Linked DNA regions of Homo sapiens: region 2 is linked to region 1. Evidence: fine-mapped expression QTL. A gene starts in region 1. The other region holds a variant in brackets. All regions are shown on one strand. Distances are between the middles of the regions. Region 1 holds the start of MCL1 (MCL1 apoptosis regulator, BCL2 family member). Region 2 has its middle 13 kb from the start of ENSA.

Region 1 (5,375 bases):
AGATATGCCAAACCAGCTCCTACTCCAGCAACACCTGCAAAAGCCAGCAGCACATTCCTGATGCCACCTTCTAGGTCCTCTACATGGAAGAACTCCACAAACCCATCCTAGAAAACAAAAAAGAAAAGCACATTTTCAAGTATGGGTTTCTGCTCTCTTACAACACTACTATCCAGAGAGAAGGTAAATTAAAATATCTAAGGTTTCCCCCTAAAGCAATAGTAAACCAATTATTATTCACCCCGGGGCAAAAAAAGAAAATAAGTTCTTCAGTTTCTTAAGCGGGGACCCATGATAATTAAACTTCATTTTACAGTACTATCTTGGTCTTATTAGGATTTATCCTAACAAAAGGACTTCCAGAGTTCCCATGAGGTAAAAGACGAAAACCCTTATTCTCAAATCTCCACCACCTAATATTTCAGTAACGCCTCAATTGCGCAGATCAGTTTTTCTCAACGTAGTTAAGTACATCCTGCATCAGATCTGGGTTTGTTTAAAACGCAGGCTCCACCCCATATCTTCTCCATTAAAACAGGCACCGCCTTAGGAATTATTTCAGCTATCCTCCCCTGGTGACTTATTTTTTCATGGTTTGAATCCACTGAAGAGTATTCAACTGAATTGGAACAAAAAATTGCCTAGAGAAAACCAAGATTTTTGATACAATTCAAGACCGCCATACCACTATCTCTAAGGATCCACTACTTAAATCAACATCAAATAAACAATGGTCCTTTAGTTAGAGCCTGCAAACAGCCGTGCGTCATAAAAACCTTTAGATATCCCCACCTCTCTAAAAAAAATCCTTCATTCTACTTCCACTCCAAGGCCCCTTTCATCCTTAAGGCAAACTTACCCAGCCTCTTTGTTTAACTAGCCAGTCCCGTTTTGTCCTTACGAGAACGTCTGTGATACTTTCTGCTAATGGTTCGATGCAGCTTTCTTGGTTTATGGTCTTCAAGTGTTTAGCCACAAAGGCACCAAAAGAAATGAGAGTCACAATCCTGCCCCAGTTTGTTACGCCGTCGCTGAAAACATGGATCATCACTCGAGACAACGATTTCACATCGTCTTCGTTTTTGATGTCCAGTTTCCGAAGCATGCCTGAGAAAGAAAAGCATGCAGGTCCTCACGGCCTCCTTTGTCTAAACCGGCGCAAGATTCGCCTGCCCACCCGCGGCGGGAAAATCGCTACTGGGATTTACAGAACTCAGGTTGACCCCACTTGAAATTGACATCCCACCCTTTCCGGTCTTTGAACAAGAGCTGCCATTTCCAAAAGAATCAAGATGGGCGGAAACAATGACTCATGGCCAGAATATTCTGGCTTCAGGAATAGGATGAGACACGTTTCAACACTGACTCGTTTCGGTTTCCAACCCACCCTTGGCGGGTGAGTCCGGGGAGAGATGGAAAAAAGGGAGTGAGGCCTTGGCGATTAATGAACCCCCTTACCTTGGAAGGCCGTCTCGTGGTTGCGCTGCACGCCATCCCCAACCCGTCGTAAGGTCTCCAGCGCCTTCCTGCTGGTGGCCCCAGACCTGCCCATTGGCTTTGTGTCCTTGGCGCCGGTGGCCTGCTCCCGAAGGTACCGAGAGATAATCTCCAGCGACTGCCGGTACAACTCGTCCTCCTCCTCCTCTGCTGGCGGCGGCGTCGAGGGTAGTGACCCGTCCGTACTGGTGTTATTACCAGATTCCCCGACCAACTCCAGCAGCGGCAGGACAGCCGGCCGCTTCCCGAGAGGCTCCGGCTCGTACCCGTCCAGCTCCTCTTCGGGCGACATGATGGCGTCAGCGGCCGGGGCTTCCATCTCCTCAAGCGGCGCCGCGCGGCGGGTGGGCGCGAAGAAAAGCAGCCTCGCGGGGGTCGCGGTGACGTCGGGGACCTCGGCGCCAATGGGCGGCGGCCGCGCGACCCTCCGGGAGTCTGGCGTGAGGGTGGACGGGGGGCTTGCGCCGGCGCTTCCGCCAATCACCGCGCCGGCCTCCCCTCCCCCTATCTCTCGCCGGGCCGAGGCCTCCTTCTCCGTAGCCAAAAGTCGCCCTCCCGGGCGGGTGGCGCCGCCGCTGCCGGCCCCCAAGCCGGCCCCCCCACAGTAGAGGTTGAGTCCGATTACCGCGTTTCTTTTGAGGCCAAACATTGCCAGTCGCCGCCGCCGCCTGGCTGAGAAAACTGGGGAAGACCCCGACTCCTTACTGGAAGGAAGCGGAAGTGAGAAGTGGCGAGCAGCTCCTTTATCACGGTTTTAGGGCGGCCAGTCCTACGGGGTGGCGCCAGCGAACTCTTTTTTTTTAAAAAAAGTATTCCCATAAAAGGGGAAAGGGGCGGCAGCTTCCGGAGGGTTGCGCACGGCACCTACCAGCTGCCCGGCCGGGCCGGGGCGGGGCCGGGGCCGGGGCCGGGGCCGGGGCCTGAGCCGGGGCCTGAGCGGGGCCTTCCGGTCTTCGGAGGCTCTGAGTGCCGGTTACGTAACGGCGGCTCCGAGCGCCTGGGGTCCTCCCAGAGCTCCTGGGCTCGAGCTCTTTCCATGAGCACCTCGGGCCTTCTCGTGGCTACCTCTGTGCTTCCCTGAGACCTGATTTGTGAGCCCTTTTTGCTGGTTTTCGCCAGAGGTTTTTTACCAAATCAAAATTTCAACCATTGACTAACACAGGGGTTGAAGGAAGAGGACGGGGAAGTTCAGTGATGGATGGGAACAACAGTCTTAGATGATAGGGATAATTAAGAGGGCATAGTTGGGGACTTGTGGTTATTTTGCACAGCTCTCTACTCTCAGTCCAATGTTTGGAAATGAGGATGCTCCACGTGCTACCCTAAAGAACCATTTATGTAAGTGGACTAAGCTAAAACTGCCACAGCTAAACTATTCCTGCCTCCCTGCTTGCTTCTCCCATCTCTGTTCCATAGTCTTTGGTGCTATTTACATATAGGCCTTAATCCATTAGAATCTCGTCTGAGAGTCTTGACACCATTTTTTGTTTGTTTTGAGACAGTCTAGCTCTGTTGCCCAGGCTGGAGTGCAGTGGGGCGATCTCGGCTCACTACAAGCTCCACTTCCCACGTTCAGACGATTCGGTACCTCAGCCTCCCGAGTAGCTGGGATTACAGGCGTGCGCCACCACATCTGGCTAGTTTTTGTATTTTTGGTAGAGATGGGGTTTTCACGATGTTGGCCAGGCTGGTCTCGAACTCATGGCCTCAAGTGACCTGCCTGTCTCGGCCTCCCAAAGTGCTGAGATTACAGCTGTGAGCCACCTCGCCCAGCTGATTATTGTATTTTTAGTAGAGATGTGTTTCATGCGCGTCTGTGTGAAGACACCACCAAACAGGCTTTGTGTGAGCAACATGGCTGTTTATTTCACCTGGGTGCAGGCGGGCTGAGTCCGAAAAGAGAGTCAGCAAAGGGTGATGGATTATCATTAGTTCTTACAGGTTTTGGGATAGGTGGTGAAGTTGAGAGCAATGTTTTGTGGGCAGGGGTGGATCTCACAAAGTACATTCTCAAGGGTGGGGAGAATTACAAAGAACCTTCTTAAGGGTGGGGGAGATTACAAAGTACATTGATCAGTTCGGGTGGGGCAGAAACAAATCACAATGGTGGAATGTCATCAGTTAAGGCTATTTTTACTTCTTTTGTGGATCTTCAGTTACTTCAGGCCATCTGGATGTATACGTGCAAGTCACAGGGGATGCGATGGCTTGGCTTGGGCTCAGAGGCCTGACAATGTGGTTTCACCATGTTGGCCAGGCTGGTCTCAAACTCCTGGCCTCAGGTGATCCACCTGCCTCAGCCTCTTAAAGTGCTGGGATTACAGGTGTGAGTCACTGCACCCAGCTGACACCATTTATTTTTGTACTGATAATAAGGCACATTTGACTCTAGAGGTTTGTAAAGCCCTTGAGAACAAGGATCTTCTTATATGCCATGTATGTTAGTTAACGTTAATTAAAGCAGCCTTTTTGTTAAAAGATCTGTAAAAATAATAGCTAAAATTCAAAAGCAAGGTGCTGAGAGACATAGGAAAGGTGAGCAAGCTCACTTTTTATTTATTTTTTTGAGATGAGGTCTTGCCCTGTCACCCAGGCTGGAGTGCAGTGGCACCATCAGTGCTCATTGCTGCCTCAACCTCCTGGGCTGAAGTGATCCTCCCACCACAGCCTCGCGAGTAGCGAGGAACACAGGTGCATGCCCCTATACTTGGCTAATTTTTTTATTTCTTGTAGAGATGGGGTATCACTATTTTGCCCAGGCCGGTCTTGAACTCCTGGACTCAGGTGATCCTCCTACCTTGGCCTCCCAAAGTGTTGGGATTACAGACCGGGCTCTGTGCCTCATGCCAATAATCCCAGCACTTTGGGAGGCTGAGGTGGGTGGATCGCTTGAGCCCAGGAGTTTGAGACCAGCCTGGGAAACATGGCGAAACCCTGTCTCTACTAAAAACACAAAAATTAGATGGGTGTGGTGGTGCGCATCTGTAATACCAGCTACTCTGGAGGCTGAGACAGGAGAACTGCTTGAACCCAAGAGACGGAGGTTGCGGTGAGCCAAGATAGTGCCACTGCACTCCAGCCTGGGCAACAGAGCAAGACTTGGTCTCAAAAAAAATAATAATAATAATGAGGCCTGGCGCAGTGGCTCACACCTGCAATCCCAGCACTTTGGGAGGCCAAGGCGGGCGAATCATCTGAGGTCAGGAGTTTGAGACCAGCCCAACCAACATGGAGAAACTCCATCTCTACTAAAAATACAAAATTAGCCGGGCCGTGGTGGCACGTGCCTGTAATCCCAGCTACTTGGAAGGCTGAGGCGGGAGAATCGCTTGAACCTGGGAGGCGGAGGTTGCGGTGAGCTGAGAGTGCGCCATTGCACTCCAGCCTGGACAACAAGAGCGAAACGCCATCTCAAAAATAAATAAATAAATAAAGTGTTGGAATTATAGGCGTGAGTCTCCCTCTTGGCCAAAAGTTCCTAATCCCCAAAATGTCACAGTTTAGTAAGGTGATACGGCGTCCATACCACCCATTTATGTTTTGGGCAGGACCTAGAACCATAGGGGTTTATAGTATGAGTGGCAAGGATAGAGCATTTTGTGGTTATAGTGAATAAGAAATAGTTTCTCTATTTAAGGAATGTCTAATCTTGTACAGCAACTAACCATAATGTGAGATGGAATGTATGCTCTACACAAGGCATTAACAACTTCATTTTGGAGTTAAGAGGTTGGGAAATTCACTTTGGGCTGAGAGAGCTAGAGGAAAGTGTTATGGAGGAGGTAGCTTTGCTCTCATGCTTTATAAAGTAAAATTTTATCAGGTGGTAAAGTGGAAAGAGATTGAGGAAATAGGAGGAGCAATGATTTTTCCTTGTA
Region 2 (5,375 bases), 63 kb after region 1:
TGAGGTCAGGAGTTCAAGACCAGCCTTACCAACATGGAGAAACCCCGTCTCTACTAAAAATACAAAAAAAATTAGCCAGGCATGGTGGCATATGCCTGTAATCCCAGCTGTCAGGCCTCTGAGCCCAAACCAAGCCATCGCATCCCCTGTGACTTGCACGTATACACCCAGATGGCCTGAAGTAACTGAAGATCCACAAAAGAAGTAAAAATAGCCTTAACTGATGACATTCCACCATTGATTTGTTCCTGTCCCACCCTAACTGATCAATGTACTTTGTAATCTCCCCCACCCTTAAGAAAGTTCTTTGTAATTCTCCCCACCCTTGAGAATGTACTTTGTGAGATCCACCCCTGCCCGCAAAACATTGCTCTCAACTTCACCGCCTATCCCAAAACCTATAAGAATTAATGATAATCCATCTCCCTTCGCTGACTCTCTTTTCGGCACCCAGGTGAAATAAATACCCATGTTGCTCACACAAAGCCTGTTTGGTGGCCTCTTCACACGGACGCACATGAAACCAGCTACTTGGGAGGCTGAGGCAGGAGAATTGCTTGAACCCGGGAGGCGGAGGTTGCGGTGACCCGAGATCACGCCATTGCACTCCTGCCTGGGCAACAAGAGCAAAATTCCGTCTCAGGGAAAAAAAAAAAATTAGCTGGGTGTGGTGGGGCAGGCCTGTAATCCCAGCTACTCAGGAGGCTGAGGCAGGAGAATCACTTGAACCTGGGAGGCGGAGGTTGCAGAGTCGAGATCATGCCATTGCCCTCCAGCCTGGGCGACTGAGTGAGACTCCATCTTAAAAAAAAAAAAAAAAAAAGTCTTTTATTACTTTTTGAGCATTTAAAGAGTATTTTTTGGCCAGACGGTGTGGCTCACGCCTGTAATCCCAGTATTTTGGGAGGCCCAGGCGGGTGGATCACTTGAAGCCTCCAGCCTGGCCAACATGGCAGGAGAATGACTGGAACCCGGGAGGTGGATGTTGCAGTGAGCCAAGATGGTGTCACTGCACTCCAGCCTGGGTGACAGAGAGAGACTCTGTCTCAAAGACAAAAAGAAAATTTGTTCAGTATTTTCTTCAATCAGCTTTCTCAGACTGAATGTTCACCCTTTTAAATATTCATAATGTTCCTGAGAATCCATTTGGCTATTCTGTTTTCTTCACCCTTCTCCAGCCTTCCCCTCCTCAATTCGACCCATTTCTTCCCTACTTCCCAAAAGAAAAAATATCTACTTTGGATTAATATAAATCAGTTTAATCTAACTTATTCAAGACTTTTTTGGCCTCTACTTGGAGGTTCAAGAAAAGGTGTGTCAGGCCTCTGAGCCCAAGCTAAGCCATCATATCCCCTGTGACCTGCACATACACATCCAGATGGCCGGTTCCTGCCTTAACTGATGACATTCCACCACAAAAGAAGTGAAAATGGCCTGTTCCTGCCTTAACTGATGACATTGTCTTGTGAAATTCCTTTTCCTGGCTCATCCTGTCTCAAAAAGCTCCCCTACTGAGCACCCTGTGACCCCCACTCTGTCCGCCAGAGAACAACACCCCTTTGACTGTAATTTTCCTTTATCTACCCAAATCCTATAAAACAGCCGCACCCTTATCTTCCTTCGCTGACTCTCTTTTTGGACTCAGCCCGCCTGCACCCAGGTGAAATAAACAGCCATGTTGCTCACACAAAGCCTGTTTGGTGGTCTCTTCACACGCACGAGCATGAAAGTGAGGTGATACAACGAGGGGGAAAAGAATTATTATTATTATTATTAAGGCTAACCTACAAATATTTTGAGGTATTTTATGGGTTTAAATATCCATAAATCTTTGAAGAAGTCTCACTTTCAGATAAGGAGGAAACATTTCAGTATCTCTGAAATACAAGAAAAACTTAGGATTAAAATTTTTCTCATTAAATCAGGAAAATGATGTACATTTATTGGACTGATTTTTTTCTTGTGGCAGAAACATGGATTCAGTCAAGAAGCCCTTCTGAAGGAGTAGAAGGCCCTAGATTCCCAGGTAAGCTTCTGAAGGAAATTCAGTTAAATCTACTATCATACTTTGGGAGGTTGAATTAGATTAAGAAAAACAAAGCGGTAGCCAGATTATTTATATTCTGGGAAAAAATTCTACACAAAAGAGCTCTTAGAGAATATTTAGTTTTTCCCCTCTGGTTCAATTTACTTTTTTACAATTTGGAATGCAAAGGAAAACTGACACGGTAAGTGAGCTGGGCTGCTAGAAAACGGAGATTTCTGCCAGGAAGTGACTCTCGCTTTGACTTGCATTCGATAAAATTTTACTGCTTTCTGGGAGAGATGGCTCCCTCAATTATCAATAAAAAGTCACTTTTCAGCTGAGCACGGTGGCTCATGCCTATAATCCTAGCACTTTGGGAGGCTGAGACAGGAGGATCCCTTGA[G/A]CCCAGGAGTTTGAGACCAGGCTGGGCAACACAGGGAGACCCCCCTGCCTCTACAAAACAACAAAAAAAGCATGTTTGGTTTGTCTCTTTCCAAATTACCTAGACAACTTGGAACTCAGCAGAAAAATAAGACAGACCAAGGCTTTGAGAATAATTGCAGACACAGAAACAAAGAGTACATACACACATGTAACAGATAATAGAAAAATATCAAAAAAGCAGTGTTACCTAACATTTCAGCATTAAAGTGATTATTTTTATTCTTTAGGGAGAGTAAAACACATTTTAAGAAACCATATGAATATACACTTATGGGCATTTTAGCTGTGTGGCAAAAAGGAAGAACAAATTTTATCTGTTAGAATCTAAATTAAATTTCAGTTTTGTTGTAATTTAATGTCAGAAAGCATGCATGCATACATGTAAGACAGTGGAATATATAAAGTGTTGAAAGACAAAAACAACCCACCAACCTAGAATTATTTCTGTTGTTGTTGTTGTAGAACTGGGGCTCTGGCTATGTTGCCCAGGCTGGTCATAAACTCCTGGCCTCAAGTGATCCTCCTGCCTCGGCCTCCCAAAGTGCTGGGATTACAGGTGAGCTATTGTACCCAGCCCAACATAGAATTCTATTTCCAGTTAAATTATCCTTCCAAAATGAAGGATAAATAAAGACTTTCTTAGACAAAAACTGAGGGAATTCACATCCAGCTGACTTGCTCTGTAAGAAATGTTATTGAGAGAGGGAAAATGATAAGTAGGAAACTCAGTTCTTCTTTTTTTTTTTTTAGTTTTGTTCTTTCACCCAGGCTGGAATTAAGTGGCACAATCTCGGCTCACTGCAACCTCTGCCCCCCAGGTTCAAGCCATTTTCCTGCCTCAGCCTCCCCAGTAGCTGGGATTATAGGTGACCGCCACCACACCCATCTAATTTTTGTATTTTTAGTAGAGATGGTGTTTCGCCAGGTTGGCCAGGCTGGTCTCGAACCCCTGACCTTAGGCAATCTGCCTGTTCGGGCTCCCAAAGTGCTAGGATTACAGGTGTGAGCCACTGTGCCTGGCTGGAAACTCAGTTCTATATAAAGAAAAGCAATGGGAAAGGAATAAGGAAAGGTAAACAAACAACAAAAACAATTTAGCTTGTCCTGGTGCATGTGCCTGTAATCCCAACTACTGGAGAGGCTGAGGCGGGAGGATCCCTTGAGGCCAGGAGTTTGAGGCATTATTGGGCTATGATAGCGCCTGTGAATAGCCACTGCACTCCAGCCTTGGCAACAAAGTGAGACCCCATCTCTAAAAAAAGAGCTGCCAGTTTCAAAATCCTTTGTTTAGTTTACAACTTGAATATATTCTCTTATTTTCTGGGCTGAGCGCAGTGGCTCATGCCTGTAATCCCAGCACTTTGGGAGGCTGAGGCGGGTGGATCACCTGAGGTCAGGAGTTTGAGACTAGTCTGGCCAACATGGTGAAACCCCATCTCTACTAAAAATATAAGAAATTAGCCAGGCGTGGTGGTGGGTGCCTGTAATCCCAGCTACTAAAGAGGCTGAGGCAGGAGAATCACTTGAACCTAGGAGGCGGAGGTTGCAGTGAGCTGAGATCCAGCCTGGGCAACAAGAGTGAAACTCCATCTCAAAAAAAAAATTTTTTTTTTCTGGAAATATGTGAAAACGACATGCATTCATGAAATTCTAGCACATCACCAATTATCTTGTACATATTATTTCCTCTGCATAGGGTAGCCTTGGCTCTTCCCTCTTAGCCTGAAAAGATCCTTTGAGACTTTTTAAACATTTTTTTAAAAATAGAGACAAGGTCTTGCTATGGCCCAGGCTGGTCTTGAATTCCTGGACTCCAGTGATCCTCCCACCTTGGCCTCCTAAAGTGCTGGGACTACAGGCATAAGCCACCGTGGCCCAGCCGATCCTTTGAGATTTAGTTCAAATGAAGGCAAGAAAGGGTAGTGATTAAAAAGTAGGTGTTTGAACTGAAGCTCTGCACTAGGTCCTCAGGCAAGCCTCATTACCTGAGTTTTCTTTTTTTTTTTTTTGAGACACAGTCTTGCTCTGTCACCCAGGCTGGAGTACAGTGACACGATCTTGACTCACTACAGCCTCCACCTCCCGGGTTCCAGCGATTCTCCTGCTTCAGCCTCCCGAGTAGCTGGGACTACAGGCATGTGCCACCATGCCGGGCTAATTTTTGTATTTTTAATAGAGATGGGATTTCACCATGTTGGCCAGGCTGGTCTCGAACTCTTGACCTCAGGTGATCCAGCCGCCTTGGCCTCCCAAAGTGCTGGGAATACAGGCATGAGCCACCACACCCAGCCACCGGAGTTTTCTTTAAAAGAACACTGTAGAGTTTTTTTTTTTTTTTAGTGTTGTAATAAATGAGACAAGATACAAAGCAGTTAGCATAGTACCTACCTCACAACAAAAGTGCTCAATATATGATAACCATAATAAATACAACACCTCAAAGTCTTCCCTAACATTCCCAGGGAGAATACTATTTATTTGTGCTTCCAAATATTATGTTTATACTTCTATTTGAGCATTTGTCACAAATTATATTATTTGCCCACATAAATGTGCATTCTTGGGAGCTAGAATGGTGCCCTATGCAATGTTTTATTGTCAGTGCCTAGCAAGTGCCCATCAATTTGTAAGTACTCAATATTTTTTTGATGAATGAATTATAGACAATAAGATATAGGGTGGCGTTCTCCAATTTTAACATGCAAGCTTTTAGAGTTTCTTTTTTTTTGAGACGGAGTCTCGCTCTATCGCCCAGGCTGGAGTGTAGAGGCGCAATCTTGGCTCACTGCAACCTCCGCCTCCCAGATTCAAGCAATTCTCCTGCCTCAGCCTCCTGAGTAGCTGGGATTACAGGAGTGCGCCACTATGGCCAGCTAATTTTGTATTTTTAGTAGAGATGGGGTTT

What was found. PIP is the estimated chance that this variant, and not a neighbour inherited with it, causes the effect. A credible set is the group of variants that fine-mapping cannot tell apart.
Region 2: its variant is the best candidate, but not a certain one, in a credible set for the expression of MCL1 in whole blood (TOPMed, PIP 0.58).

Annotation. Positions count from the first base shown.
Region 1 is chr1:150,577,385-150,582,759 of GRCh38, forward strand. MCL1 (MCL1 apoptosis regulator, BCL2 family member) reads right to left here and starts at 2,226. Exons shown (of 3, transcript NM_021960.5): 1 at 1,459-2,226; 2 at 860-1,107; 3 at 1-107. The coding sequence starts at 2,146. It overlaps LOC107985203 (a long non-coding RNA gene), which reads left to right and starts at 2,446. Exons shown (of 3, transcript NR_186818.1): 1 at 2,446-2,835. RefSeq lists enhancers at 484-1,683, 644-1,362, 1,363-2,080, 2,129-2,423 and silencers at 1,997-2,126, 2,197-2,536.
Region 2 is chr1:150,640,061-150,645,435 of GRCh38, forward strand. No RefSeq gene overlaps it. Among named protein-coding and RNA genes, the nearest start is that of ENSA, 13 kb to the left of the region's middle. RefSeq lists an enhancer at 1,057-1,672. The variant G/A (reference allele first, on the strand shown) is at 2,430.